Linked DNA regions of Homo sapiens. The protein of the gene in region 2 interacts with the protein of the main gene of each other region in a pairwise test. Each region holds a gene or a part of one and is shown on either strand. Other genes may lie near its edges.

Region 1 (3,987 bases), on a different chromosome or scaffold from region 2:
CTTGGTTCCCAATCTGGCCCACGAAAATCTATTTAAGCCATAACACAGATGAATTATAGCCTCGGTAAAAACCCTGCATTCTGCATCCAGGGAGCAGAGAGGAACACATGATGCTAGAGAGAGTTCTGCCCTTCTTTGTAGGCCACATGGTTGGCCTATAACAAAATGCATCTTTGATATCGTCTTCCTCTCTTTCTCCATTCCCTACTCCTCCATCTCCAACTCTCCTCTTTGGGCCTTACATAACTAAATCACATGCTTCCCTAAAACCCTATCAGAACCTTCCACCCCTCTTCCAGAAGCACCATGTTTCCTAATCACCTGTCTTCCCTCGCCTCAACCAAACCCCTACTTGCTCAATGCCACAGATCTCAACTGAACGTTGGGAGGAAAGCAACTTCAGCAAACAAATTCACACTCTTAGCTGCTTCTACTGTTTTTGGCTTTTCCTCTGCTTCTCCTTCTGAACCCAGAAGCTCTGTTTTATTGTTCTTCCACCGCAGAAGTAGTTCCGGCAGAGAGAGAAGGCATTAAGACTAAAGCAACTGTCCTATATAGGCGCCTGTCAGCCAGGTGTGTGGAACACACACGCGCGCGCACACACACACACACACACGTGCAGCAAGCCTCACTCTGTGCAAATCCCTCCTCTTGCCCAGGCATGGGAAACGTCCCCTGCTGTCTACTTTAGAAAACTCTTCCACCATGCACAGTATTTTTTCAATCTTCTTTTATTCATTTAGAAAGTTACAGGTAACAAATTGCACATCAAACAGTTTTTTTAAAGTATACAACAAAAGCCCAGAGAAGAATGTGACTAAGAATGGTTGTAAATAGAAAAACAAAACCAACCGCCTTCATTGGAATCTAGCTTCTAACCCACTGGAGTATGGAATTTTTAATGACAGGTCAAACTTGGACCACATCCCAGGAGTTTATGTTACTAAGAGGACTGGAAGAATGTCCCTCCAGTTCAATCTGGCTTCTTACCTGGTAAGACATGGCTCCTGGGTATAAAGGGAATTTCCCCCATGGGGCTGTAAATAAAGGATAGTGTTAATGGTAAACATTATACATTCCTCTAGCTCCTTTCAATTATATTATCTCCTTCTCCAAAGTAGATATTTATGTTGTAAAACCAAAGTCTTAAGATTTAATACTGGCCCACAATTATCTCTAGAGTCTTCTAGGTGCAAGCATTTTGCCATGAAAGCCACAGCAAATGCCTTCAGTAGGGAAAATGAGACATCTACATAAATAACTCCCAGAAGGTAGAGAGCAGAAAGGGCCCTGGAGAAAAAATGCTGCAGAAATCAGAGCAGGGGGAGGTTGGCTGTTTCAGGAAAAGCCTCACACCACCAGCAAAACACAGTTTGAAGGATGGTTAGACTTTAGAGTGGTGGATGTGGGGGAAGATGTGCCATCAGATGGTCTAGATGACAACACCATCAGACATTCTTCAGAAAAGTATTTATGAAGACATCGATGCATACAATAACCTAGAGATAGTCCACCTCTCTCCTCAATGACAACTGGGCACCTGTACAAGCACCTATGGGGTCACCTGCTTCCACCTCCCAAGTCAGGCTCTCAAAAATTCTCCCTAGTGGGGTCAAGCATTCTTGGCCTCAGTAGTGCCCATTCTGTGGCAGCGGCCCTGCCCTACCTCTACGGGGGGTATAAGAAACATGAAAACATACCAATCCTGCAGAGATCTAAAAGACCTACGGGCAAATTTTGCATAATGCAACTGAAATTATGACCTTCGTGCAAATAAAACTTTTCGAAGACGTGAATCCTACTTAACAGGTATTCAGGGAACTCACTATTTAAAATGACACTGATTAATCACTAAATGAGTCTTACACTGAATAATTGGTTAAGTCGGCTGAACTCAGTGTCTGATGGCTTAAATACAGAGCGAGGGGCGAAAGCTTCCACAAATTTACGCTGTGCACCTAACATTCGCCACGACAGAAGACTTCTTGCTCTAGTGTATTTATTACTGTAGCATTAAAGGACTTGAAGGCAAAGCTAGCTATTCTAGTTATCAGTTAGAGCGGGACCTGGTCCAATATTGTATTTTCTAGGACTTGATGTACACAAATCTCTCCAGGAACAATCTCTTGAGCACTTTCCTTGAAATACCGCTGCTAAGTACCGCCACAAAAAGAGCTTACGTTTTTCTTTGCACTGGCCACCTCCACACCGTATTCACAACACGAAGGGGCGACCTGAGGCAGGCGTCTGGAGTGAAGGCACTGGCAGGGTGTCCTTTAGCCCCTGCGAGGGCGGCCTGCATGCCCTGGAGGACCGCCCGCCTCGGGTCCCCCGGGAGCGCGAGGACACTTTTCCGCCAGGTACGCGGAGTCGGGCTGCTCCCTTAGGCGGGTCGACTGCCTTGGGAGAGAACCAGCCCATCCTTCCCTTTCTCCAGTCCTCAGGAACCGAGCTACAGAGTCGCTTCCTCACCTCTTGGCTCCTGGCGAGTCTCGCCGGCGTCCCCAAGCGCAGCGTCCCTCTGGGACCAGCCGTCCGCGCGCCTGTCGCTAGCGGCGTCGGGTGTCCCCGCTACTGTGTGTCAGCTGCAGAGCCGATGCCCAGGAACGCGCAGGAGCCAGGCAAGTGCCCGAGAGGCAGAGCCCGGGAGGCAGAGCCCGGGAGGTAGAGCCCGGGCGCGCCGCCGCTGCCCCTCCCGCCGCGCGAGCCCGCCGCCCGCCGCGTTGCCCACGTTGCCCAGCGTTACCGTGTGGACCCGCGCCGTTCACAGTCCGCTCCCGCCGAGATGTGCGCGCTGCCCGGACAGCGGCGGCTGCGCGGGCGGCAGCGGGGCCCCCGCCCTGGGCCGGGCTTTCCCAGAACTCGCCCGCCCCGGGTGAGAGGCCGCTAGCGCCACCGCGGGCGGCCGGGCGGGGGAGCGGCCTGTGCCGGGCCCGCCCCCGGCTCCTGCCGCGCGGGGAAGGCGGGCGCGGAGCGAGGACCCGGCCGCCTCCCCCGGAGCTGGCTGCTGGCGGCGCGACCCCTTCCCAGACCCCTGGCCCTGACCCCTAGGAGCCATCCTTTCTGGCGGGAGCCAGAGAGAGCGCTCCTGGGGCGCCCGGCTCCGGGAAGGGCGGGAACTCTGCACACCTCAGGCGGCGGGAATTTACTCTCACACTACCCCAGGGAACCACCCCTGGTTGACAGATATGGAAACTGAGGTTCACGGCAGATAAAGGACACGATCAAGGTCTCTGTAGTAGATGGCAGCACCAAGTCTCGAATCTGTTCTGTCACTCGTTCATTTAATACATATTCATTGAGCCCCATCAATGTGCCCAGCGTTGTGCCAGGCTCCGGAAATACTCCTTTTGCTGGTAATGGTGGCCATCCAGGACTGCGGACTCCAAATCCAGTACTCTTTCATTGCTCAAGCAAACCTGAAGATCTTCACAACTAGAAACTACAGGCTTTGCACAGAACTTCCTTAGCCGCTGGAGCGGCTTTTATGAGTCTTAGGAGAGCCAAGGACCTGGAAAAAAAAATCAAATCATCATCCTCCTCCCTTTCGCCTAAACCTGTGCCTCCTCCCTCTACCTGTTCTAATGGAAGACCGTTCCCTAGGCCTGACCTCTTCTCCTACATCCGATCAGGACCCATTCCTGTGGCCCATATCGCCTCCCACTGTCCTCTCCCTTGGACCAAATCAATCCTTCAAACCACCGCTGTATTATTCTTCCTTTTTTACAACTTTAATCTATGCAGAAAACTTCACTGGCTCCCTATTGCCCTCCAAACTAACTCTCCATGGCTGTGTAACCCAGCATGCCCTGGCTAATAAGGATCACCCAACAGAATGTCTCTCCCACTCTAGCTCTGTACCTGAACTTAAGCTGAGCCTTCTACCTGGAGCATCTCCTCCCACACACTTTCCTCCTGCTCATGTTTGACCCTTTCTTTCGGGTCCCTCTTAAAAGTGATCTCTCCTTCTTGGAGGCTCCAGAACAC
Region 2 (3,500 bases):
AAATTGAAAAGATAATACAAGTTTTTCTTTTTTTTTTTTTTTTGTTTGAGACTGGGTCTTACTCTGTCACCTAGGCTGGAGTGAAGTGGTATGAACATGGCTTATGGCAGCCTCCACCTCCTGGGCTCAAGCGGTCCTCCCACCTCAGCCTCCCGAGTAGCTAGGACCACAGGCATGAGCCACCATGTCCGGCTAATTTTTAAAAAATATTTTTTTGTAGAGACGAGGTCTCACTATGTTGCTCAGACCAGTCTTGAATTCCTGGACTCAAGCAATCCTCCCACCTCAGCCTCCCAAAATGCTGGGATTTATAGGTATGAGCCACTGTGCCCAGCCAATGCAAACATTTTCATTAGTTAAAATTGGTACAAACTTTCTAATTTTTTAATCATTTTTTATCCTAATATCACATAGAGACATTTATCCTAGGTAAAGAATTAAAAACACACAGAGATTAAGGTACTAAAATGTTCAATGCCACATTATAGGGGGAAAAAGATGACAAAATAACCTAGGTGACCATTAACAGGTACCTGGTTAAATTAAATGTACCACATCCATGTGATGTACTTTTATTTTTACTGTTGTTATTTTTTCCTTTTTTGAGACAGAGTTTCACTCGTGTCACCCAGGCTGGAGTGCAATGGCACAATCTCGGTTCACTGCAACCTCCACCTCCCAGGTTCAAGTGATTCTCCTGCCTTAGCCTTTCGAGTAGCTGGGATTACAGGAGTCTGCCACCACGCCCAGCTAATTTTTGTATTTTTAGTAGAGACAGGGTTTCACCATGTTGGCCAAGCTGGTCTCAAACTCCTGACCTCAGGTGATCCACCCGCCTCGGCCTCCCAAAGTGCTGGGATTGCAGGCGGGGAGCCATCATGGCCAGCCCATGTGATGTAATTTTATATCATCATTAAAGCCATTATTTTAAAAAAGATTCAAATGAAATGAAAAAAAAATATTATATATTTATATTTATGTCTACATATGTATATATATATAGAGAGAGAGAAGATAAAATTGTACATAGAAACTAGACTTGTGGGGAAAAATGCTGTTGTCACTTCAACGACATGAGTTTGAACTTTGTAGGTCCACGTATGCTCAGATTCTCTTCTGCCTCTGCCGCCCTGAGACAGCAAGACCAACCCCTTCTCCTCCTCTTCCTCCTCCTCAGCCTACTCAACGTGAAGAGGATGAGAATGAAGACCTTTATGATGACCCGCATCCACTTAATGAATAGTAAATATATTTTCTCTTTCCTATGATTTTCTTAACATTTTCTTTCCTTTAGTTTACTTTACTATAAGAATACGGTATATGTTACAAATAAAATACAAAATATGTGTTAATCGACTGTTGATGTTATTGGTAAGACTCTGGTCAACAGTAAGCTGTTAGAAGTGAAGGTTTTGGGGAGTCAAAAGTTATATGTGGATTTTTGACTGTGTGGGGGCTAGGCTCCCCTAGACTCCATGTTGTCCAAGGATCAACTGTATTATGTAAATGCAGAGAAAAAAGACTAGAGATATATATTTAAAATCAGAATACCTAGGTGACAAGATTTCAGGAATTTCTGGTATCCTGGTTTGTATTATATCTTCTAAAATAATATTGCTTCTATCATCAGAACAAAATGAACCTAAAAAAAATCCTCAAATATTTTATGATATGCCAAAAACCCATCCCATCACTACTGCCTCACTAAAGCTGAGCACTTTTTTTTTATAAGACAGGATCTTGCTGTGTTGCCCAGGCTGGAGTGCAGTGGTGCAATCATAGCTCACTGGAACCTCAAACTCCTGGGCCCAAGCAATCCTCCCGCCTCAGCCTCCAAAGTAGCTGGAACTACAGGTGTGCACCTCCATGCCCAGCTAATTTTTCAATTTTTATAGAGGCAGGGTTTCACCATGTTGCCCAGGTTGGTCTCAAACTCCTGAGCTCAAGCAATCCTCCCGCTTCAGCCTCCCAAAATCTGAGCACTTTTTATCATTCTAATTACCATGGCAAATTTATATTTTGATTTGACAGTTTCAATGGACTAAATTAAGGAAATGAGTGCCGAAACTAGGATTAAAATCTCAAGTCTGAGAATCACAGAACACAGGATCTGGATGAGTCCCCAAACCTATCTCCCCTCAACCTATCTTACCCCTCCTTATGGCACAGGTGTAGGTGTGTGATGACGTGTTGGGGAGCTCACTCTCAAGCAGCCATGGCCACCCCTGAGAAGTGACAGGCAACATGCCAAGTGTCTTCTGTAAAGAGCTGGGACCACTGGTTCAGTTCTATAAATAACCTCTCATTTTCACCTTCTGATTGTGATTAACCAAACATGTAAAGAAAAAAGGTGAACGGACGAACACATATCAGATTTGACCCCATTTTTCCAAAAGTACAGAACTTCCCTGGGATGCAAGAAACCCTTACAGATGGCCAGTCAGAGAAATACACATATTCGGAAACAAATAAAACAATAACTTATGGCCAGAATGCAGGTGCTTAAACATTCATTTTAAAGGATATCTGTCTCACTGTTTCCCCTTTAAGAAAATCAATCTAGTGAAAATTTTAAGGGCAAATTTGCTTTCAATGATCTGTTCTTATAGCCACGTAACTGTTCTGGAAAGGAAAGTTCTGACTGAATTAGGCAAGGTAGGTTTGCAGAGGTTCCACGGATTGACTAACAGGTTCAATGTAAAAAAAAAATCCTATACTTACAAAATATCTAAATTTTAGTTACTCTTGTCCTTTGCAAAACTGTGCTGGAATTATACCCTCAGCTCTAACTGTAACACAGGTAGTGTTTTTGTTTTGTCTTATTTTTAATTTTTTTTTTTTCGAGATGGAGTCTTGCTCTGTTGCCCAGGCTGGAGTGCCGTGGCGCAATCTCAGCTCACTGCAACCTCTGCCATCCGGGTTCAAGCGATTCTCCTGCCTCAGCCTCCCAAGTAGCTGGGACTACTCGTGCCACCACCCCTGGGATTACAGGCGTGCACCACCACCCCCAGCTAATTTTTGTATTTTTAGTAGAGACGGGGTTTCACCATGTCAGGCTGGTCTCGAACTCCTGACCTCATGATCTGCTCCCCTCAGCCTCCCACAGTGCTGGGATTATAGGCATGAGCCACCGTGCCCAGCCTTGTTTTTAAACAAGTACGAAAACCAAACAAGAGGCTATATCTGGCATCCCAGTGCCCCCCACTCTACCCATCCTGAAAAATCTGGGTGTGAACTGAGGGAGGAAGGGTTCCTCTTCACAGCTTCCTCCTCAACTGAGTCAGCACAGGTTATCTGCAAGTTCTCTTTGCACTTCCAAGAAGCCTGCAAACCAGCCTCCTACGTGCTTTTTCTGCATGTTAGGAAAAGCCTTGGAAACTCTCAAGATATTGTGGAAACAGCCAAAGCAAAAGGATCAATCAAAGAATCTACACACAGCCCACTAGAGCCAATGTCCCAAGTTCTAATCCCGCAGGCTGAAGAGACTTAGCTGAAGACCT

Evidence for each region. The genes of interacting proteins can lie anywhere in the genome.
Region 1: the proteins of PPP1R3B (region 2) and PLCE1 interact in a two-hybrid assay, tested with the Homo sapiens proteins (one large-scale study listed by BioGRID).

The regions. Positions count from the first base shown.
Region 1 is NC_000010.11:93,992,744-93,996,730, reverse strand, and holds the start of PLCE1 (1-phosphatidylinositol 4,5-bisphosphate phosphodiesterase epsilon-1), read right to left. Parts: upstream 2,801-3,987; 5' UTR 2,473-2,800; exon of another isoform or gene 991-2,472; intron 1-990. UniProt on the Homo sapiens protein: The production of the second messenger molecules diacylglycerol (DAG) and inositol 1,4,5-trisphosphate (IP3) is mediated by activated phosphatidylinositol-specific phospholipase C enzymes.
Region 2 is NC_000008.11:9,144,159-9,147,658, forward strand, and holds part of PPP1R3B (protein phosphatase 1 regulatory subunit 3B), read right to left. Parts: intron 1,353-3,500; exon of another isoform or gene 1,093-1,352; intron 1-1,092. UniProt on the Homo sapiens protein: Acts as a glycogen-targeting subunit for phosphatase PP1. Facilitates interaction of the PP1 with enzymes of the glycogen metabolism and regulates its activity.